7 linked regions of the Homo sapiens genome follow. The protein of the gene in region 1 purifies or fractionates together with the protein of each later gene. This does not show direct contact. Each region holds a gene or a part of one and is shown in the gene's direction. Other genes may lie near its edges.

Region 1 (3,500 bases):
TAGTAGAGATGGGGTTTCACCATAGTGGTTGGCCAGGCTGGTCTCGAACCCCTGACCTCAGGTGATCTGCCCACCTTGGCCTCCCAAAGTACTAGGATTACAGGCATGAGCAACTGCGCCCAGCCACTGAGTCTTAAAAGCAGGTATATGGGCAGGTATATGGTAGTCTCCATCCATATCTTGTGTTTTGTTTGTTTGTTTGTTTGTTTGTTTTGAGATGGACTCTCACTCTGTCGCACAGGCTGGAGTGCAGTGGCGCAATCTCGGCTCACTGCAACTTCTGCCTCCGGGGTTCAAGCAATTTTCCTGCCTCAGCCTCCTAAGTAACTGGGACTACAGGCCCGCTCCACCATGGCCGGCTAATTTTTGTATTTTTAGTACAGACGGGGTTTCACCATTTTGGCCAGGATGGTCTCGATCTCCTGATCTTATGATCTGCCCGCCTCGTCCTCCCAAAGTGCTGTGATTTCAGACGTGAGCCACCGTGCCCGGACTCTCCATCTGTATCTTTTTTTTTTTTTTTTTTTTTTTGAGGCAGAGTCTCGCTCTGTCGCCCAGGCTGGAGTGCAGTGGTGCAATCTCGGCTCACTGCAAGCTCGGCCTCCCGGGTTCACGCCATTCTCCTGCCTCAGCCTCCCGAGTAGCTGGGACTACAGGCGCCCACCACCACGCCCGGCTAATTTTTTGTATTTTAATTAGAGACAGGCTTTCACTGTGTTAGCCAGGATGGTCTCGATCTCCTGACCTCGTGATCTGCCCACCTCGGCCTCCCAAAGTGTTGGGATTACAGGCGTGAGCCACCGCGCCTGGCCTCTGTCTGTATCATAAAGCTCCTAGGCCTGGCTCGGTGGCTCAAGCCTGTAATCCCAGTGCTTTGGAAGGCCAAGGGGAAAAAATCATTTGAGCCCAGGAGTTCGAGACCAGCCTGGGCAACATAGCAAGACCCCACCTCTACAAAAAATAAAAAAATTAGCCCGGCATGGTGGCATGTGCCTGTAGTCTCAGCTCCTTGGGAGGCTGAGGCAGGAGGATGGCTTGAGCCTGGGAATTGGAGATTGCAGTGAGCTATGATCATAGCACTGCACTCTAGCCTGGGTAACAGAGACCCTGTCTCTTAAAAAAAACAGTAAGACTGGGTGCAGTGGCTCACTCTTGTAACCCTAGCACTTTGGGAGACCAAGGCGGGAGGATCACTTGAGCCCAGGAGTTCGAGACCAGCCTCAGCAACATGACGAAACCCTGTTTCTACTAAAAATACAAAAAACTAGCCGGGTGTGAATGGTGTGCACTTATACTCCCAGTTGCTTGGGAGGCTGAGGAAGGAGGACGACCTGGGCCCAAGAAGTTGAGGCTACAGTAAGCCGAGATCATGCCATTGCACTCCAGCTTGGGTGACGGGAGTGAGACCCTGCCTCTAAATAAATAAATAAAAATAAATTAAAAAAATAATAAAACTTAAAAAGCTCCCATAAGAAGGAGTTCAAGAAAATTGAAGGCTTTGGAGTGTTTATTGGGTCCCTGATTTATTTATGAAGCAACAACATTCTGCCGGGACTGAGGATACAGCCATGAACAGGATGTGACTCCTGTCCTCAGCAGCTCACAGCCTTGTGGTCTTAAAAGGTCTTGTAGACCCCCTAAGAGTTTCATGGGTTGTCCTGGACACCTGGGTGCAAACTAACTCTTGGGCCTCGACCTCCCGAGTAGCTGGGATTACAGGCACGTCCCACGACACCCGGCTAATTTTTGTATTTTTAGTAGAGAGGGGGTTTCACCATCTTGGCCTGGCTGGTCTGAAACTTCTGACCTCAGGTGATCTGCCCACCTTAGCCTCCCAAAGTGCTGGGATTACAGGCATGAGCCACCGTGCCTGGCCTTTCTTGATCTCTTTTAAACTTCACCATGACCCTGTGAAGTGAAGCAGTGTTTCCATATTTTACAGACGGAGGAAACCGAGGCTTGGTGTTGCACAGCTAGTAAGTGGCAAGGCTGGACTTTTTCACTTGAGCCCAGTGCAGGGTTCCCACTGATGGGCTGGAGGAGCTTTGGGGAAGGGAGGGAGGCAGGGATGTTTCTGATGGCAACAGCCTGGGCATGGTGTGTTCTGGGACCGAGGGGAAGGGCAGCAGACTGGCCAGGTCAGAGTACAGAGTATGGGTGAGTAGTGTAGAAGCAGCGGGGATGGAGCATGGATGAGAACCTCGGGCTGATTAGGTTAGAGAAGGATGAGTGCCTTAGTGCTTTTTTGGGTTTGGGAGAATCCCGTGTGGACTTTCCCACGTTGACTGTGTAGATGTTAAGTGACCCTGAGGTATGTGAGTGACTTCAGGGCAGTGTGAAATGAAAGTTCTCAGTGGCCGGTTTGAGGCTGGAGCTGGGCAGGCAGGTGTAGAGGGATTGGGGGTACTTGACTTTGGCCTGGGCAGGAGGGATAGGTACCTGGCAGGGTTCTAGACTTGAAGGGCATGCCCCATGCCTCCAAGTGTCTGGTTGGGACGCCAGCGTCAGTCTCAGCAGATTCTGTGGGTGCTGTGGTGGTAGGTGTGGCGGCTCTTGCCTTAGCATCCAAGGCTGGTGCCCAAATTTTGTTCCTTGGCCATTGGCTGCTCAGTGACCTTATTCCTAAATCTAGGGCAGCCCCTGTTTGGACCCAGGAGGCTGGCTTGCAAGAAGCAAGAGAGCCTTGGTGTGGCTGGGCATGGTGGCTCATGCCTATAATCCCAGCACTTTGGGAGGCCGAGGCGGATGGATCATTTGAGGTCAACAGTTCGAGACCAGCCTGACCAACATGGTGAAACCCCATCTCTACTAAAAATACAAAAATTAGCCGGGCGTGGTGGTGGGTCCCTGTAATCCCAGCTACTCGGGAGGCTGAGGCATGAGAATTGCTTGAACTCGGGAGGTAGAAATTGCAGTGAGCTGAGATTGTGCTACTGCACTCTAGCCTGGGCAACAGAGCGAGACTCCATCTCAACCCCCCCTCCGCCCCCCATAATTAGCCAGGCTTGGTGGATCACGCCTGTAATCCCAGTTATTTGGGAGGCTGAGGCATGAAAATCGCTTGAACCCGGGAGGTAGAGATTGCAGTGAGCCAAGATTGTGCCACTGCACTCCAGCCTGGGCAATAGAGCGAGACTCAGTCAAAAGAAAAAAGAGAACCTCGGTGTTGGTGGACTTGGGTCACCTTTGATTTTCACCTGGAGGAGTCTGAAGTGGCCAGAGAGAGGATAGTGGACCTTTACTGTGTGTGTAGGACGTTTACAGACCTTAACCGTAAATGCAAAACCCCAGAAAGAGCTATCAGAAACTTTCAGGCATTTGCAGAAAAATCCACTTTATTCAGTGCAGTATCACCTGGAAATTTCAATCAACCATCCTTCATCAACAGGAACCCCTGGTTGGTCAGCCATCAGAAGCCCTGGTTGGTCAGCATTCCACCAATAAGAATTCCTGGTTAGCGGCACTCCACCAATCACAACCCCTGGTTAGCTCCTATTCCA
Region 2 (2,312 bases), on another chromosome or scaffold:
AACTGCAGCCCGTGCCGGCTTCTCGCCCTGCAGGACGGGGAGGTTTACTGCATCGACGCGCGGTTCTACGGGAACGTCAGCCGGTTCATCAACCACCACTGCGAGCCCAACCTGGTGCCCGTGCGCGTGTTCATGGCCCACCAGGACCTGCGGTTCCCCCGGATCGCCTTCTTCAGCACCCGCCTGATCGAGGCCGGCGAGCAGCTCGGGTACGCACCGCCCCGGCCCCTGGCCATCTCCGCTGCCGGCGGGACGGTTTTAGGAACGGGGCTCGCATTGCTTTCCTGGGCTTGTCTCGGGTTTATGCTAGTGGTTTTCCTGTAGTTCTAAAAACTGCGACCTGGGATGCGGCACGGCAGATCGGGGTGAGGAAGCTTTGGCCTTGCCTTAATTTATCTGGCTTGTGGGAGGTGCCGGTGGGATTCGACTTGGAGCCTTGGTTCTGTTCCCTCCCCAGGTTTGACTATGGAGAGCGCTTCTGGGACATCAAAGGCAAGCTCTTCAGCTGCCGCTGCGGCTCCCCCAAGTGCCGGCACTCGAGCGCGGCCCTGGCCCAGCGTCAGGCCAGCGCGGCCCAGGAGGCCCAGGAGGACGGCTTGCCCGACACCAGCTCCGCGGCTGCCGCCGACCCCCTATGAGACGCCGCCGGCCAGCGGGGCGCTCGGGAGCCAGGGACCGCCGCGTCGCCGATTAGAGGACGAGGAGGAGAGATTCCGCACGCAACCGAAAGGGTCCTTCGGGGCTGCGCCGCCGGCTTCCTGGAGGGGTCGGAGGTGAGGCTGCAGCCCCTGCGGGCGGGTGTGGATGCCTCCCAGCCACCTTCCCAGACCTGCGGCCTCACCGCGGGCCCAGTGCCCAGGCTGGAGCGCACACTTTGGTCCGCGCGCCAGAGACGCTGGGAGTCCGCACTGGCATCACCTTCTGAGTTTCTGATGCTGATTTGTCGTTGCGAAGTTTCTCGTTTCTTCCTCTGACCTCCGAGGTCCCCGCTGCACCACGGGGTTGCTCTGTTCTCCTGTCCGGCCCAGACTCTTCTGTGTGGCGCCGCCGAAGCCACCGTTAGCGCGAGCTGCTCCGTTCGCCCTGCCCACGGCCTGCGTGGCTGGGGCCGAGTCCCAGGGGCCGCACGGAGGGCACAGTCTCCTGTCAGGCTCGGAGAGGTCAGGAGACCGACCCCACCACTAACTTTGGAGAAAATGTGGGTTTGCTTTTTAAAGGAATCCTATATCTAGTCCTATATATCAAACCTCTAACTGACGTTTCTTTTCGAGGAAGTGGCTTGGTGGGTGCAGCCCCCGCCGGTTCCGTTGACGCTGGCACCTTCTGTTGATTTTTTAAGCCACATGCTATGATGAATAAACTGATTTATTTTCTACCATTACTGAACATTAGGACAAACACAAAATAAAAAACAAAACACAGACAACGGTGCTGATTCTGGTGTGGTTTCTACTCACCACGTGAAATAAACTATCAACTGTATAAAGAGAACAAAGTGATTTTAGAATAAAATGCAGGAAAAACTTTTTTAAAGATGTTAGTCTTGTAGCGTGAATAAATTTGCCATCACCTTTTGTGTGGTGGCCTGGCAGGTCATATACTTTTTTTTGGCATATACCTTTTTAAAGACTGTAATTAGTGCAGTAACAGTGGGGTTTTTTTTGTGCAACTCTTCTAAAAACATTCATAATGCAGTCATGTTTATTTTTTTCTGTTAAAATGTTTTTGACAGTTTTAAGAGCAGTCTTTTGGCTCTGACCATTTCTTGTTCTGTTTCCAATGAAATCAATAAAAAAAAAGAAGTACTTTAAATGGGGTTTTTATTATGACACCATATTTCAGGGTCTCTGCAGAACTTGCAGGTCCCCCTGGACCCGGCCCAGCTCTCTGTCCCCTGTCCAAGGAAGTACAGCTTCCTTTTCACCCCAGATCTGTCCCCGAAGAGGGGACGTTCCAGGCAGAGGTTAGGGGAGCCTGTGCATTTGCGCACGTGTCGAATGAGTCTGTGTGTGTCCACGAATGCATCGTGCACGTGGTGCGAATGCGGGCACACTGGTGTGTGTGTGTGTGTGTGTGTGTTTGCATGTCTGTGTCTAGCGCCAGGTGCCCAGCTCTGGGCGTCATTCTGGAAGCCGACAGGGCACATCAGGTGAGTCCCACAACCAGAGGCAGAGCTGCACTTGAACAGCGAGGCCGGACAAGGGAGAGCCAGAGCCCGTCCTACTTCCTGCCAGCCATGACCCCCACTCCTCTACGGGGACCCCTAGACCCAAAGCCTCCAGCCTGCTATGTTCTCCATGCTGACTGGCCTC
Region 3 (3,996 bases), on another chromosome or scaffold:
GCAGAAGGCACTGTCCTGGCCAGAGCTCTCAGAGGCCCAGCTGCATGCTCTGGTGTCCAGCTCTGGGCTCAGGGCGGGGTGGGACCACAGTCTGGGTGGCTGGGGCTGCAAGACTCCGAGGTGAAAGGTCACTCCTGGAAGGGCTTGTCCAGCCGGTTAAAGGTTAACCTGCCCAGAGCCAGAGGCTCGCCAGCCCGGGCCTCGCATACAAAGGGTGCTTAATAAATGCTGGTCGGGCGGGCCCCAGCCCCGGTACTGGGGGATGGGGTGAGTTGGAGGTGGCGGCAGCTGCGAGGCTCCAGGGCGCCTGGAAGAGACATCTGCAGTCCAGCCGGCCGCCAGGCCAAGCCCTTTCTGCAAAGCACAGAAAGAAAAGGAAATTAAAAGGGAAAAAGGGGCAGGCCCCCAGACAGGGCATGCCTGTCGCCTCCAGCCGCGCGGGGCGGGTGGGCGCCCTGCCCCCGGAGGCCAGAAATTCTGCAGAGGGGCCCCCTGACCTCGCGGCCCCGGCCAGCCGGTCTCAGACCACAACATCCCTTCCCCCTGGAGATTCCGGGCACCAGGTGTTAACCCGAGCAGAGAAAGGGTGGGGTGGGGGTCAGACGCGGCGACTTTCTGGAAGAGGAAGCAAACACAATCTAGGGTGTGTGTGTGTGTGTGTGTGTGTGTGTGTGTGTGTGTGTCTGTCTGTCTCGCGCGCGCGTGTGTCTTGCGCAGGGGCGTACCCCCCCCCCGGGTGCCACTGGCCCCCCATCATTGCTTTGCCAGGAACTGTGGGGTGGGGAGAGGTTCCGAGGGGCGCCTCGAGGGTGATCGAGCGACCCAACGTCCAAGGCCAGAGGTGGAGGGGAGGGCCTTGGAGAGACATCTTGGCGAGGCTCAAGGAAGGGCAGAGGGCAGGCGCGGCTGAGGCTCCCGCCGCGGCCCGGCAGGGGTTAAGGCCCGAGCTGGGCGAGGGCGAGGGCGGGGGTGCGGGGGGAGGGGCAGAGGGAGGCGGGGGAGGGTCAGGCCCCGCGGCCCAGCGCTCGGCCCCCGTCCCTCCCGCCGGCCCGTTCGCCCGGCGCCGCGCGCGGCCACCCATGCCCTTATAAGGGCGGCCGTCGCCGGGGCAACGAGCGCCCGCCCCCAGCCCGCGGCGCGCGCCCCTGCCCCCGCCCCCGCCCCCCGCCCGCCCCGCGAATGGAACGCTGTGTGTCAAACCGGCCGCAGCGCGAGGCCGGCGCGCGGGGTCGGTGGCGGTGGCGGCGGCGAGAGCGAGGCTTGGGCCCAGGCGCAGGCCCAGGCCAGGCAGGAGCGGCCGCAGCGGGGGCGGCAGCTCCAGAGGCGCCGGCCCAGCGGCCCTGCAGGCCCGGAGCGGCAGCCGCGGGCGCCGGGGGACCCAGGGGGCGCGGCGATCAGCCCCGGCGCGCACCCGCCGCCCCTCCCCCCCCGCCACGGGCGGCCGCGCAACTTGCGGCCAAACTTTCCCCCCGGCCTCCCGCGCTCGGATGGCGGCCCGCTGAGTTGGCCGCAGCCCCCGGGCGAGCGGCGGCCAGGCCAGAGGACGCCCCCTGCGCGGCTCGGGCCGGGCCATGGCCCGCGCGCCCCCGCCGGGGCCCCAGGGCGGCGGGACGCGAGTCCTCTGGGCCCCCGGCCCGCGCCTCTAGCGTGCCCCTCCCGGCCCCGGGCCCGGCCCCGCGCACGCGTGGGAAAGTTGGCCTGGAACCGGCCCGACCAGTTCCGCCCGGGCGCGAGGACCGGCCGCAGGAAGTTGCTGCAAAACTTTTTTGGGGGGTGCAGCCCGTGCCCCCCGCGCGCCGGGGCCGAATGCGCGCCGCGTAGGGTCCCCCGGGCCGAGAGGGGTGCCCGGAGGGAAGAGCGCGGTGGGGGCGCCCCGGCCCCGCTGCCCTGGGGCTATGGCCATGGTGACCGGCGGCTGGGGCGGCCCCGGCGGCGACACGAACGGCGTGGACAAGGCGGGCGGCTACCCGCGCGCGGCCGAGGACGACTCGGCCTCGCCCCCCGGTGCCGCCAGCGACGCCGAGCCGGGCGACGAGGAGCGGCCGGGGCTGCAGGTGGACTGCGTGGTGTGCGGGGACAAGTCGAGCGGCAAGCATTACGGTGTCTTCACCTGCGAGGGCTGCAAGAGCTTTTTCAAGCGAAGCATCCGCCGCAACCTCAGCTACACCTGCCGGTGAGCCCCCCATCCGCGCGCCGCCGCCGTGCACCCCGCCCCGACCTGGGGCAGGCCTCTGACCTGCTCGGTCACCTTGGGCCTGGCGCTGACCTTCCCTGGGCCTCCACTGCCCCCTCTGAGATAGGGGCACAGCACCCTCCTCCCGCATTCCATGGCTGGGATTGTGTATACAGTCGGCGCTACATCGTTGCAGGTTCCCCCCCCATCAGGTGGTCCCTGGAGGCTTTTGCCCCAGTTACTTGCTTCTCCTTCCCTCCGCTTTTTCTCTGGGGAGGGGTCATCTCCGCGCTGGGGTGGGGGTAGGGGTGCTGTCAGGGGTGGTAACCCAACCCCAGGGCACCCGTTCTCGGGGATCCCGGCGCGCGGGATGCCCTCGAGGGAATCGAACGTGGAACTTGGACCGTGGAGCTCGCAGCGTCCAGGGGCCATTGTCTGCGGCCGCGCGGATCGATACGGCGCGCCCTTGGGGTCAAATATCACTTCCAAAGTCGCTGTGGCTACGGAGGCGGCAGACGGAGGGAGGCTGGGGTGGCACGGGGCGGCCTTCTTCGCATGAGGGGCCCAGCGGTGGGGGTGGGGGTGGGAGCTGGGCTTGCCCATCTCAGGGAACCCCTCTGGGCTCACTCTGGGCCTTGGGTCACCGGAAATCGCCACTGGAAGGCCGGCAGGGCCACCGGAATTGACTGAAACGTCCCTCTCCCCCAGGGGTGGGTGCAGACCTGGGGCTCCTGGAAAAATCCCTCAAACTTTGGGTGTCTCTGAGACGGGCAGGGAGTGAAACGTTTCCGAGCAGGAGCCTTGGGCTGTCCCAGGTCGGAGACCTCTCTGGCAGGGCGTGGCCTTGCTAGCTGTTCTGGCGGAAGGTCCCCAGGGAAAGCGATCGGGGTTGTCCAGCCCGGGAGTTCTTTTCTCACCGTTCCCGGGCGAGCATCCGATCTGTCCGTTTATAAGCCCCTACTCTGCACCCCAGGAACATGCAGGGTCTCTGTGGAGCCCGTCTAGACGGTCTCAGTTCCCAGCTGCCCAAAACAGAGGCCCAAAGGCCCAGAGAGAGGTCCTGGTGCCTGCTTTGCGTTGGACATGGAGGGACGCTGCCCGAGTTGGGGGCACTGTGGGGGAACTGTGGGGCTAGGGTGGGGACCGCTGAGTTCGGATCGGAGTGGCCCCAGGGAGAACGGCTGATGGAAGGCTTGTTGGCTGAGGCCACCAAATAGGGCCCCAGGTACCCGAGGGTGGAGTTTGGCCCCAGGTCCCGGGTCAGGGCTGGCCTGGTGTGGCCATGTGTGGCAGAGCTGCCTTGCTCCCTCCTCCAGCACAAAGTGGGCCACTAGACTTTGGCCTCATTCTTGCTGCTGGAAAACCGCCTGCTCTCTGGTCATATCTTTAGGGAGGGTAAGGGAGGGGGGCTCAGGCAGTTTTGGGGTCCCAGGAGCTTCCTGAGGGTGGTGTCAGGGAGCAGCAATTTTGGGTGGGGGGGGCCTTGCTTGGAGCTGACAGGTTTGTGCTGTGTCAGTTGTGTGACCTGGTGAAATCACCATTCCATTCTGAGCTTCAAATGGATTGAGCAGGGTCTCGCTGGGGCCCAGCCTGGGTAGTTTGATGCCAGCCCCTCCAGAGAGACCCCAGCTCCAAGTCTAGCTCCTGAGAAGCCCCCAGTCTGGAGGAGACACAGTGAGACAGATGCCCCAAGTCTGTGGGATCTGGGGTCCCAGGGAGAGAGCAGAGGCTCTGCCTGGAGGTCAGAGAGGGCTGCCTGGAGGAGGCTAGGGGACATGAGCCTTGAAGCATGGAGTTGGCAGGTGGAAGAAAGGCCACAGGGA
Region 4 (3,500 bases), on another chromosome or scaffold:
TCTCAGAAGTCTGCAAGGTTGCACAATAGGATAGTCATCCTTTGAAATGAATGAATTCCACAGAACTGCCACTCTTGTATGAAATATGCACAATCACCCAGCAGTGAATATTTTCATTCCTTTTGCTCAACTTCAGTACAGCATTTTAATATTTTTCAAAGGCTGGAGATGCTTTTAAGTATAGGGACTCTGCAGCCAAATTCTGCAGGGGCATCTGGCTGTTACTTCTTTGTTTAAAATCAGAGGTGACTCTGGCCTCTGCTCATTCTTTCTCCAGATTTTGCAAGACATATTTCACTTTGGGCTGACCTTACAGTGTCATTTGCAGACTTGTGCTCTGGCCTCAAATTGGACTTAATCTGCTGGTTTAGTTATTGCAAAGATTGAATCAGCCCCTCACCAATTACAGTGTGGCTGCAAGTGGATTTAAGTGCAGTATCATTGTTCTGCTTGACAGAGGTCATCCCTTTAAGACACAGCAGCTTCTGTTTTCCTGACTTTTTACCATAGATGATGTGGGTGACTTCTTATGCAAGCATAGTTGTGTATCTCCGAAGAAGCTCCAAGAGAGTTTTATAAGGCTGCTTCTCTGAACTGCCCTGAGAGATATATATGCTGTGGTCTCTTAGCTTACTTTAAGGCTCAGTGAAATCTACACATTGAATCTAGTTCCTTTTGATGTCTTAGAATAGAAGGCTCATGTTTCCTAGCTGTGTGTTGACCAATGAAAAAATTCTTTGCAAAAACAGATCAAATGTAAAGATGCTATTTATTATAGGGGACTGCGTAGAGAATTCCATAGGACACTATTTGGAGGAATAGAGATTCCAGAGTCATTTAAACAAAATAATCAAGGCTGCTTATTGTCTCCATGTACCTACTTTTGCTAGATGAATGAAGGCACTTTAAGGAGTCTTTAACTGTATGTTTTCATGGAGATACTGGTAGCTACTGTGCAGATTGACATAATTACTATCTTGGCAGAATGGGTACTTTTTTTTTGCAAATGTTATTAATGATGGCCTAATCTTACTGCCTTATCTGAACTGTCACATTACATAACCAAGGCTCCAAATTAAACATGTAAAGAAGCTGGCACCAGGCTTGTGGCTTGATTTTGCACGTGAAGATGATGGTTTAAATACCAGTCCAAGCCCCTAAATGCCCCTGATAGCTACTAATAAAAGTTTGGCTCCTTCTCGTGTGGGAAAACATAAGTACTTATTTTATTTTTCATACTCTGTCCACCATCTTGGAATTTGGTCTCTTCTACAAAAGGTATGGCTACATTTGAAGCTGCCACAAATATGTTAGTTTTTTAAAAATTCTGTCTCCAGTTTTTCAGCAGTGGAGCAGGATAATAGGCTAAAAGTGCTGAGCAAAAGTCACCTTTTATGTTTTTGTAAATGCACCTGGAAACAGGAAGTAGATTATAAATAATCATAACTCTGTGAGCACTGGCGACAGAAGCTGCAACCTGGTATTTCAGAACACAGCATCTTCATTATATGATGCAGTGTTTACGTTAGCCACTGCAAAGCTTATTACTCCTCGAAATTTTTGAGGCTTCCCTGGGTTTCTGTTGCCTGCATTCAGGGTGTTAAAGTTGATTCAAGCATTTCAGATTCCTAATTGAACAGGCCTCTTAGGTCACTGCTCTTGGGTCATCATTTGACAGTATCAGTGTGTGATTTGTGGTCTCTGGAGATGTTGAAGTATTCTTTCTTAAATTCTAGGTTATAGTGGCAGCAGCTGTGCCGCTTTTCTGAGATGCCTCGTTATGGTTCATTCACAACATTACTGTTAACTTTGCTTCCTTGGCCGTGTTAGCAGCAACTCTTGAGGTTTTACATCCCTGTTTGACTCACAGATTTTGTTTCAATTTTTTGAAGCTTAGAGCAACTTAACTCATGGATTCTTAAATAGCAGTCTGTGGCTTTGGATGGGCTTCAGAAAGCCCGTGAATCCCCTTAAAATGAATCCGGTATCGTGCATGCATTTGAGAACGGGCATTGTCAGCTAAGAGGGAACAGAGCTTTTATCAGATTTTATGTGACATCAGGACCCAAAAAAGGTTAACACTGTTCTAAATCAACATCTTCATTTTATGAAGAGGAGGGAGGTCCAGTAACCCTAAGCTCTTTATCCATCTCATCCAGATTATTGGTGGCAGGGCCAGGATTAGTGCCTCAAGGTTGCCGACTTCCAGTCCAGCATATTTCCTACCACACTGCAAAATGATGATGAAAGAAAGTATGTCTAACTAGTGAAAAAGCGATTTAGGCAGCTAAATCATTGTGAACTGATAGCATGCAGTGTATTGTTAGGGCGTTCCTGCCTCAGATGCTTTCCAGCGAAGCTCACCCACGCATGCCCCTGGCTCACGCACACACTGAATAGATTCATCTTACCCACATCCCAGGCAGATAGAAAAACCACATTCCAGACCCAGGGACTTGTATTCCTGATTTAGTGGAGGTCTTGAAATGAATGAAAGCGCCTTTTATATAACCTCAAAAATTCTCTGTAGTGTTAATTGCTGTTAGGTCTGTTTCAAAAGGTATTGATGGTGCCTTTTCTTTTTAAGCAACCGCACAATGAGTTGGCATTTTGCAGGCTAATTTTGATTCATAGAAAATCATTGCATAACTGGTTCATTGAGTTAGATATCTGTGGAGGGAAGAGAGGAAGAAGCAAGGCTGCTTCCCTATTCAGAAGGATTCTATCATATTCCTACCTCTGCCACTGGGGGCTTGAGTTTTGGCTCATTCTCTGAGCCTCAGTTTCCATATCTGTAAAATGAAAGTATTGAATTAGAGACCACTGGGCAAAAGCTAGCTGTTTATTCTCTTAGTTGCTCATGTGTTGTATAATGCCTGTTTATGTGCATTTCTTTTTTTTTATTTTTGAAGGCAAATAAAGTGTTGTTGATGTCATTGAGGTGGATCACTTTCTCTCCAATTTTGCCTTAGTTCTATAAACACGCAATTGGGCTAGAGACAAAAGTAATGAAAATTATTATTTCTGTACTGCATTACGTTTTGCAAAGCACTATCACCTTCATTTTCTCATATAATCCTCCTAACACTGTGAGTCAAGTATCAGTTTCCCATGTTGTACGTAAAGATTTGGAGGCTCCGAGAGGTTAAGTGACTTGTTTAGTGCCACACAGCTGGTAGGAGGCAGGGCCAATGTGGTCTGGGTCCAAGTTCAGCATATTTTCTGTCATCTCAAAAGCCCATACCTGTGGGAGGTGCAGCATTATGTGTTTTGGTTGTACAAGAGGCACCTCTGACTTTGGTCTTACTGTTAATCCTGTCGTAGGTGTTTGATATCAGCTGCTACCAGGAATCCCTGGCACCGTGCTTTTGCCTGTCTGCTCATAGTAACATCAACCAAATCACTGAAATTATCCTGGGTGAGACCAAAGCCTATGTGTTCTTTGAGCGAAGCTATGGGGACATGCATTCCTTCGTCCGCACCTGCAAGAAGCTGAGAGA
Region 5 (2,250 bases), on another chromosome or scaffold:
CCATGAAAGAGGTGGAGCCATCAGCTGCTCAGGTTGTAAGAAAATGGGAGACGGAAGGCAGGATTCACTTTCTAACTGGGTCGGGGTGGGGAAGGTCAGGGTAGAAGGAAACATGTTTTCCCCAGCTCCCAGGAGGAGACGAAGATCATTTTATCCCACCTTCCATCCCTGTATATTAAGTAGTACTACTACATAGAATTTTCCCGTTATCGTTTAAAATAATAGCAACAGGAAAAGAAAAATGGATGCTGCAGTTTTAGTTGGGGCTAAATGCTGAGCAACGATTGTTGGAGTGTGTGTGTAAATTTAAATTGTAGCACATATTCAGGGTCAGGAAAGCAAAATGTTGGGGATGAGGAACCAGTGTTACCAGGTTCAAGTGAGTTAGTAGAAAGCACCAGGTCCAAGCAGACAAAGCATCTGGTTAATTTCCAGAATTGGCTAAGGTCCACTGAATCTCTAATGATAGGGTGTGTGTGTGTGTGTGTGTGTGTGTGTGTGTGTCTGTAAGTCACTTTTTGGATTTTTGTTGCTTTTTCCAGATAAGGCCTTAGTAGCCTCTAAATATCAACTATGCAGATAAACATACTCCTTTTTTTTTTCACATGTCCCTGTCTTTTCCATTCTCAGATAACAAATGTTAAGACCCAAAGAAATAAGGCATAAGGGTTTTTGTTGAATGTGTGTTTGTTCTTCTAGGGAAAATTAACAGAAGCATAAAATAGAGATACTTTGTGTGTTCATCTATCGTAAAATGTGAACTCTGTATTCAAAAACTATCTACAGATGCTTTCACTGGTGCAAAGCTGTAGTTAGTATCATGGAATGTCTTTGGGTTGTTAATGATAAAATCATCCCAGTGTTCAATTCTGAGAGTTTTAGATTATATGACACAATGTTCAGGTTTATAGAGCTGAATGGGTGATCAAACTCTAATTAAAAATAGCTTTGAATATTAATGTTGAATTCTTCTTTCTTGGTTTCCTTTAGTCTTCATTCTTTATTCAGAGCTCTTAATCATATTGCTACACTAGAATATGAATTGTATATTAGGAGTCTGGGGAGGAAAGGTTAAATTGTCTTTTACATCCTCTTCTCACTCACTCTGGCAACCTATCCTGTGTCCCCATAGAACTGAGAAGTAAAGCCCTGTGCAGGCCTGCTTTAGAAGACTTTACATCCCAGCAGAGGATTCAGGCAGGGACTCTCAGGATTTTAATCAGACTGCCTTTGAATAATGTGATATTAAATTTTATTTTTCTCATAGACTCTCAAAGTACCACTTGCTTGAAAGTAGCTACTTGTGATCTTTAATTTCCTTATATTGTGATAGTTCTACTTTTCAGTCTTTCCTGTGTATCTCCATTTCATAGTGCGTTAGTACTTAAACTTCGGACACTTTTCCAAACTGTTAAACAAGTCAGGAATGCTTTTCAGAATCGCAGTAGTATTATTAGGGTCTCTGTGTCTAGGACTTACAGTCATCAGTGGTCATCACTGGGACTAGAGGTGTTCTTTTTTTTCCTCTTCTCCTTTGTATTAAAAAATAGATTTTGCTACTGTATAATGCGGCATTTCATGACTTCCTCTTGTTACTTTTCAAGGTTATTCTAAAGAGATGGAGATCTTCATTAGAGGCTATTTCTCATAATAGTCTGCCTTGCTTATTTTCATACTCCCCCTGAAATAAGCCTACTTTTGCAAACAGGCCATATGAATCAAATTTTATGTTTGTTCCTCACAAAATTTTCTACACATTATTTGTTCCCACTTTGCTAATAATAATATAATGATTTTATTGTAAATCTGTGTTTTAAATATTTTATAACAGAGCACTAATGGAAACCTAATAAATACAAACAAGATAACTATTACCCAAGATAACATGGAAATACTTCTGTTTTTGAAGTTAACAACACCGTCTGCCCTCAAAGCACATTTAGGAGTATCAACCAAGACCAGCCAGTTGACATGTTTTTCTGTGTGGCAACCTGCCCTTAAATTGTCAGATCTTAACTATCTTGTGTTTGCTGTGCTTGCAGCCATAAGCTTTCCTCCTTTTTTGCTTATCCCTGCTGTTTGTAGGGTTAGTGTGCCCTCTGTCAGAAAATTGGGTTTTCTTTACTATACCTGCAAAATTACCAAGGGTTACCCCAATATTGTCTAGAGGAATTAAAAAGAACTTATTCTCAGTTGACAAAAGTATTACTGTTATACATAGTTAATTGGAAAGTTGGCCAACTTTGGTCA
Region 6 (3,500 bases), on another chromosome or scaffold:
ACTCTGTCTTTGCTGTCACTTTATCCAACTCACTCTAAATATTTTGTTGTGAATCATTTCACGTGTTGCCATGAATCTTCTTTCCTACCTTGTTTATGGAGTAGACGCTGTATCTACATTTGTCCTATTCTTACACTTCCTGTGTTAAAAGTTTATTTATTCTTTTCAACCATAGTCTCTGATGCAGGAATTCTTAACTGTTTAGTCTTGGCTTTATGGACCTCCACTCACTATGCATGTGGGCAACTTTCTGCAAAAACATCCACAACTTTAATCAGTTTCTCAGTGAGGTCAGGGACCTTAAAAAAGTCAAGATGCTATGCAATCTACCAGCTTTTATTTCATGGACAAAAACTTCCTTTTTTATAAGTATACTGTAGCATTTGAAGTTTCTGCTATCATTTCCAACACATTTATTTTCAGAGGTTATGACCTGTCACTTTTAAAAAACCCACCTCAGGAGACTGATCAGGCTATCTCTGATGGGATATCTCAATTATAAAATGGTCAATTTTTACAAAATTATAACACGATTCCAATGCTCAGTCAAGGTTGCAAACCATCGATCCACATATTTGTATTACTGAAAATATACCATTCTATTGTAATTCTTGTTTATGCATTCATCTCTCCTACTTAGCCAGGGCATTTTTGTGGACAGGAGCCATCTTATTCAGCTTTGAATCATCTGTGTCTAGTGATTGGCACTCTGCACATGTTCAATACATGCTTTTAAATACTCCCATGTCTCCTTTTTCTATGCGAAATCACACAAAATTGCCAACATGCTATTGAATTTGATCTACAGAAGTGGCAATTTCATATGGTCCAACTCTCTATTATTCATTTAGCTTTGTATTTCATTTTGTTAATTTGCTTCAGCTTCTTTGATCTCTTTCTCACATGTTCCTCCAGCAGCACAGTGACTTTATTTACAGAGAAATGATACTGCACAGCAATTAAGAACTGTAGCTCTAGGGCCAGGCTGCCTAGGTTGAAATCTCTGGCATATACCAGCTGTATGAACTTGGGCCCATTACTTATTCTTTTTAGTGCCTCTATTTCTTCATATATAAAATGGGAATCATAATAGAGAGTTGTTGTACAAACTAAATGAGTTAATATATGTAATCGATTAGAATGCAATTTAGTTTCTAGTAGTGGCTCTTAAAGTGAAAGCCAGGAGTAGCTCATTTCTTACTGGCCTTCATCATCATCATATCTTTATGTTCCCCTCTTCACATGTAATTTGTATCTTCAATTGAGTGAGTCTTTAACATACACAAAAATAAGAAATAACTTGCTTCACACCTCAGAGCATTTTAATTTTTCTTGCCTACCTTTCACTGTGGAAAATAGGAGAAAGTATTTACTGCTCAATTACTGTGGACCAGGCACTTTGCATACAATCTCCTTTTTTTATCAATAATTATGTATGATATTTCTATGCCAAGTTTCCAATGCAGCCTACAATAGTTGGGTTACAAGATCAGGATGCAAGGCATATTGGCATACAGGGTGGTAAACTCTTGGCATTGCAGAAACTAGCACATTTTGTATCTTGAAAATATTTATTTTTAAATAAATAAAATAATTACCATGACCATTAGCCCTTGATGCAGCTCTTTCCCTCCTAATGACTCTATTATATTCAGTCTATGTCCAAGTGTTAAAATAATTGTTGTTTTCATTCCTTTGGGCAGGAGCGCTTACATACACACAAATCAGATATTCTCTTTTTTATTTGCTTAATATAACCCAGTGAAGTGTTATTCTGCTTCAGTGTGTGCCTTGTATCACACCCACTGCTGTTTTGGTTAGATTCAATTTGCAGTATATGCCAACTATACTAGCAAATAAAGGCCTTGCCTTGCAATCAAGGACTTCCACCACATATGCAACCCTACCTGGCTTCCCAGTCTCATCTACTCTTGCATGTCAAATAAAACCTAGCCTATGTAAAAGCATATTTGACATTTATTTGTGCTGATAAAATGCGTTCCAGTAAAAAAGCCAGCTAAAACTCACCAAAACCAAGATGGCAACGAGAGTGACCTCTGGTCGTCTTCACTGCTACAATCCCACCAGTGCCATGACAGCTTACAAATGCCATGACAACATCAGGAAGTTACCCTACATGGTCTAAAATGGGGAGGCATGAATAATCCACCCCTTGTTTAGCATATCATTTTTGGTCATGTTTCTGTTCAAACATTGTTTCTAATTATTGGCCTACATGACCTTAGATTTCCCCTCCCAAACCTTTGACTATTTCTTACCTGTCTCCCCCTTTCTCTTTTTTTTTTTTTTTTTTTTTTTTAGATGGAGTCTCTCTCTGTCACCCAGGCTGGAGTGCAGTGGCGCAATCTCGGCTTACTGCAACCTCTGCCTCCGGGGTTCAAGCAATTCTCCTCCCTCAGCCTCCCGAGCAGCTGGGACTACAGGCGCATGCCACCATGCCCAGCTAATTTTTGTATTTTTAATAGAGATGGGGTTTCACCCTATTAGCCAGGCTGGTTTCGAGCTCCTGACCTTGTGATCCACCCACCTCAGCCTCCCAAAGTGCTAGGATTACAGGCATGAGTGACCGCGCCTGGCCATATGTCTCCCTTTCTTTTCTTCTCCTCATTGGTTGTGTCTGTGACCATTATGATAGGTTCAACCATCACCTCTACACATCTCATCCACACGTCCTCACTTCTAGACCTGAGCTCTAAGTGCCAAGCTGTAATCTTAGTAATCTAATCATGAGCCTGAGATTCTACATGACTGTTGATGGATGTTTCCACCCTGTATCCCTCCACTGGAACACCTCACAGACAGCATTCTTAAAACCTTAAACCCACATTCTTCACCCAAAACCATTTCCATTTCTCCTTTTGTACTTTTCAATTTAGTTAATGACTGGGCTTTGAGGTTGTCATGAGAATGTCGTGAGAATGTTTGAGAAGAACTTCTGTAAGTTTCATTCCACTGTCCTTTCAGCAGGCAGAACCAACTTTATCCATTTTAGATTGATGGGAGTACATCCTATTTTGAAAGCGATCTAAATGGAATGCTCCTCTTTATTCATTCTCTATCCTTGCTATTGGCCATACAATCCAATGAGACCCCTCAACTCAAAAATTCAGGGTCATCTTTGATTCCTCTGCTGATGTGATCCAAAACATTGTAACATGTCCTTGGTCTCATCCTCAAAAAATCTTCCATCAAAGCTTTCCATGACATGCCCTCTTCTCCTCTCTGGATGCTGCTAAGGCTCTCTCATCTCTTCTGGTAGTCCTTCTCTTCTTTCTTCTAAACCTCTCCTAGAGGAAAGTGTACAAGGCAACACATCTTACTTCTTTGATTTTACCACATTGCTCTATTTTTTTTTCTTTTATGCTTCTTTTCTAGAGGCAGCATGTGCAGTGGAAGGAATATGAGTTTGGGACTCAGCCAGAATATAGACTGTGCTCTGTCACTTATTAACTTGTGCACTGCAATGTTAATAAATCTCC
Region 7 (3,500 bases), on another chromosome or scaffold:
GATAATGTCTTCTATTTAAAATTCAACATGGGGATATATGATGTAAATGGTAATGTCCATTTGAATATTTTCATATAAGTATATATTATTCTATGTGTGTTTTTTAGAGGTACCAATCTTGGGAAAAAGAAGCAACACATTTGTCATATACCAGGATGTGGTAAAGTCTATGGGAAGACCTCACATCTGAGAGCTCATCTGCGTTGGCATTCTGGAGAACGCCCTTTTGTTTGTAACTGGATGTACTGTGGTAAAAGATTTACTCGAAGTGATGAATTACAGAGGCACAGAAGAACACATACAGGTTACTAATACTTACTTTTAACAGACAAAAATGAATTATAGGGCTACATAACTGCCTTGACTTCTTTTTTATTAGCATTCCTTACTGAACTGAATCGATTTAAAATACAATGAATTACATCCAATTTTTACCTTTAGTAACACCATCTTAATAACACAAATTCCAAAGAACAAGTCAGTCTGGCTTATCTTCTAAAATAAAGTTATATTTAAGTAGACTTTGGGTGGCTTTTGTTGACATTATTGAATGCTTTAAACCACATTTATACTATTTTTATTCTGTTAACATTTTTAATTAGTTGTCAGCTTTTACTCTTGATCTATCCTATTTTTTTTCTTTCCTCTTAACACTGTAACAAAAAATACTCCTGTTTCTTCTGACATATTTGGGCATTTCACCTTTTCTTTTGTTTTTAGTATCTCTGAGGTAAGGGAAAGGTATTTCACTGAGGAATAACCAAGGCAATGTTGATGTGAAGACTTTCTCTGATTATATTATTTTTACATAGTGTTGTGTGGTTGTTAAATGAAATGGACCTGTGACTGATCTACACTGAAACCTAACAGTGTTAACTTAGAGATAGTTTTTTCCTACTACCATGTAAATGATTAAAGTGTTCATCAGTCTATGCTCAACACTGGAGAATTGAAAACTATGTATTTACAATCCCTAGAGAGCTTGGAAGAAGCATGGTAAAATGGAGAACAACATGGATTTTGAAGTCATCTGGATTCCAATCCAAGTTCCCTATTAGGTTAAGCGAATAAACTATCTCTGACGTTGCTTCACATATCCTACTTTGGCCTTCAGTATTGTATAAAATTACCTATGAAGTCTGTAGTAGTATACAGATGCTCTAATAGTTTTAGTTCCTGTCTCTCATTGGGTAGGTAGACAGATGAGATTAACCTACATGAAACTGCAACAGACAATTAAGAAAGTAGATAAGGCTGCAGGGCGTGCTGGCCCATGCCTGTAATCCCGGCACTTTGGGAGGCCAAGGAAGGCAGATTGCTTGAGCCTCAGGAGTTTGAGACCAGCCTGGGCAACATGGTGAAACCGTGTCTCTCCTAGAAAGACAAAGAATAGCCGGGCGGATGGTGTGTACCTGTAGTCCCAGCTGCTCAGGAGGCTGAGGTGGGAGGATTGCTTGAGCCCATGGGGCGGCGGTTGCAGTGAGCCAAGGTCATGCCACTGTACTGCAGCCTGGGTGACAAAGTGAGATCCTGTCTCAAAAAAAAAAAAAAAAAAAAAAAGGTAGATAAAAGATTTTGCGTTGCAGTCTGCTGTTGAAAAGGCTCAGAAACAGAGATAATTACTGCTTGGGATAGTAAAGTATGGGATAATAGATCTTATGATGGCCCTGTTAACAGAATTTTCCTCAGTAGGATTTTATCAGCAGGTTGTAAAAAGGAATAATGTAAAAGGGAGAAAAAGGTCAATGATCAAATAAGTGTAGGAAATAGTGGGCCAAAGAGGGTATAAGTACCTTCAAGGCAGTACCTCTTAGGACCTTTAAATTAAATGCTAGATTGACAGCTTGCATCTATAAGTTAGTGATGTAATGTGTGTGTAGCATTTCCTAACCTTGTGCCGTTTGCCATGGAGTACCTCTCAGGACTAATGTTACAAGAGAAACTGGGAAATACTTTAGTAGAAAAATGGTGGTATGTTAATAGAAGAAGTGAGAGACCTTTTTTTGTAGCGGTGAATGAGGATGAGATTTTACATAACATTTCTGTTAAGTAGGATTGAGGCACACTTTAAAGGTCCTTGTAAATTAGGCAGTGGAGCATCTAAACTGTTACGTCATCTGCAAGTTACCCTTGCATTTCCATATCACTTAATATAATCTTGAAGTTTTCTGATGTAATAAAATTTGGTCTTTAAGGAAGATAGTCTGGAGAGAGAGAGAGACTAGGATGTGACTGCAGTATAGTTCAAGCATGAGGTCTGATAAAGACCTATGTAGAGTAGAGGTGCTAGAACAAAGGATACAAGCTAAGACATTTTTGAAGAAAGGAATTAAGAAAATATTTACTAGATTTATTGATTGATTTTTATTGATTTCTCTCTGAATTCCTTTTAGGTTGGCCTTTTGTCTTCTCTTTTGGTAATCTTGCAGAGTCGGTCTTCAACATAATAGAAGTTCAGTCTGTCTTTTGTATTTAAACTTACTTTATTCATGCTGGGAAATAAATTTAGGCATCAGGATTTTAACAGCTTTAACATCTTAACATATTAGGCTTGTTCTTGATTGTTGTAGCTGAAGTCAAGTCAGCTAGCCAGATTCATTTTTCTAAGGATTACTCATTCTTTTTGGATCTCAAGCTTGTGGTGTCATTTCTTTAATCTAGAAGTACCCTGTTGCTTTAATTCATATTTAAGAGTTGAAGGTTTAGTATCATGAACATGGCATGTTAGTATTTTAATTATAGCGTGAAAGAATATACTTTTATTTAGACTTTAAAGTGTGTTATAGATGCTTATTTTTTAGCTGGCATCTTAACACAGGTATTTCAAACAAACTCTTAGCGTAGTTGAGATATTAAAGTCTTATTTGAATATCCATCTATTATATAATACATGTTTGAAGACTGCTAGTCATCAAAAAGTAAAGATGAAAGATTTAAGGAGAAATATTCTGTAAGAGAAATCTGGCAGGGGTAGCTCGTAAAATGAATACAATTTTAATAGACCCCTGCTCCCATCCTCACCTGTCAGCGTTGACTTACTTTCTGTTTTGGGGGAGATGATTGAGCTATTAAAGTTGAATTTTTAAAACCAAGTAACTTAATTTTTTTCTTAACAGGTGAGAAGAAATTTGTTTGTCCAGAATGTTCAAAACGCTTTATGAGAAGTGACCACCTTGCCAAACATATTAAAACACACCAGAATAAAAAAGGTATTCACTCTAGCAGTACAGTGCTGGCATCTGTGGAAGCTGCGCGAGATGATACTTTGATTACTGCAGGAGGAACAACGCTTATCCTTGCAAATATTCAACAAGGTTCTGTTTCAGGGATAGGAACTGTTAATACTTCCGCCACCAGCAATCAAGATATCCTTACCAACACTGAAATACCTTTACAGCTTGTCACAGTTTCTGGAAATGAGACAATGGAGTAAATATTACACAAATACTTATTCATTGTGGTTATTTTTATACAGTAGTGAGAAGAATATTGTTCCTAAG

Evidence for each region.
Region 2: the proteins of TFAP4 (region 1) and EHMT1 purify together in Homo sapiens (affinity purification with mass spectrometry, with the first as the bait; one large-scale study listed by BioGRID). This does not show direct contact.
Region 3: the proteins of TFAP4 (region 1) and NR2F6 purify together in Homo sapiens (affinity purification with mass spectrometry, with the first as the bait; one large-scale study listed by BioGRID). This does not show direct contact.
Region 4: the proteins of TFAP4 (region 1) and TRIB2 purify together in Homo sapiens (affinity purification with mass spectrometry; 2 studies listed by BioGRID and IntAct, with this or other methods). This does not show direct contact.
Region 5: the proteins of TFAP4 (region 1) and UBN2 purify together in Homo sapiens (affinity purification with mass spectrometry; 2 studies listed by BioGRID and IntAct, with this or other methods). This does not show direct contact.
Region 6: the proteins of TFAP4 (region 1) and MTCL3 purify together in Homo sapiens (affinity purification with mass spectrometry, with the first as the bait; one large-scale study listed by BioGRID). This does not show direct contact.
Region 7: the proteins of TFAP4 (region 1) and SP3 purify together in Homo sapiens (affinity purification with mass spectrometry, with the first as the bait; one large-scale study listed by BioGRID). This does not show direct contact.

Annotation. Positions count from the first base shown.
Region 1 is NC_000016.10:4,266,524-4,270,023, reverse strand, and holds part of TFAP4 (transcription factor AP-4), read left to right. Parts: intron 1-1,819; exon of another isoform or gene 1,820-1,976; intron 1,977-3,093; exon of another isoform or gene 3,094-3,500.
Region 2 is NC_000009.12:137,834,316-137,836,627, forward strand, and holds the end of EHMT1 (histone-lysine N-methyltransferase EHMT1), read left to right. Parts: intron 1-33; coding exon 34-209; intron 210-457; coding exon 458-638; 3' UTR 639-1,812; downstream 1,813-2,312. UniProt on the Homo sapiens protein: Histone methyltransferase that specifically mono- and dimethylates 'Lys-9' of histone H3 (H3K9me1 and H3K9me2, respectively) in euchromatin.
Region 3 is NC_000019.10:17,243,120-17,247,115, reverse strand, and holds the start of NR2F6 (nuclear receptor subfamily 2 group F member 6), read left to right. Parts: upstream 1-1,196; 5' UTR 1,197-1,895; coding exon 1,896-2,173; intron 2,174-3,996. UniProt on the Homo sapiens protein: Transcription factor predominantly involved in transcriptional repression.
Region 4 is NC_000002.12:12,719,936-12,723,435, forward strand, and holds part of TRIB2 (tribbles homolog 2), read left to right. Parts: intron 1-3,324; coding exon 3,325-3,500.
Region 5 is NC_000007.14:139,304,237-139,306,486, forward strand, and holds part of UBN2 (ubinuclein-2), read left to right. Parts: 3' UTR 1-2,250.
Region 6 is NC_000006.12:127,477,836-127,481,335, reverse strand, and holds part of MTCL3 (microtubule cross-linking factor 3 precursor), read left to right. Parts: intron 1-3,500.
Region 7 is NC_000002.12:173,909,874-173,913,373, reverse strand, and holds part of SP3 (transcription factor Sp3), read left to right. Parts: intron 1-107; coding exon 108-304; intron 305-3,116; coding exon 3,117-3,433; 3' UTR 3,434-3,500. UniProt on the Homo sapiens protein: Transcriptional factor that can act as an activator or repressor depending on isoform and/or post-translational modifications. Binds to GT and GC boxes promoter elements. Competes with SP1 for the GC-box promoters.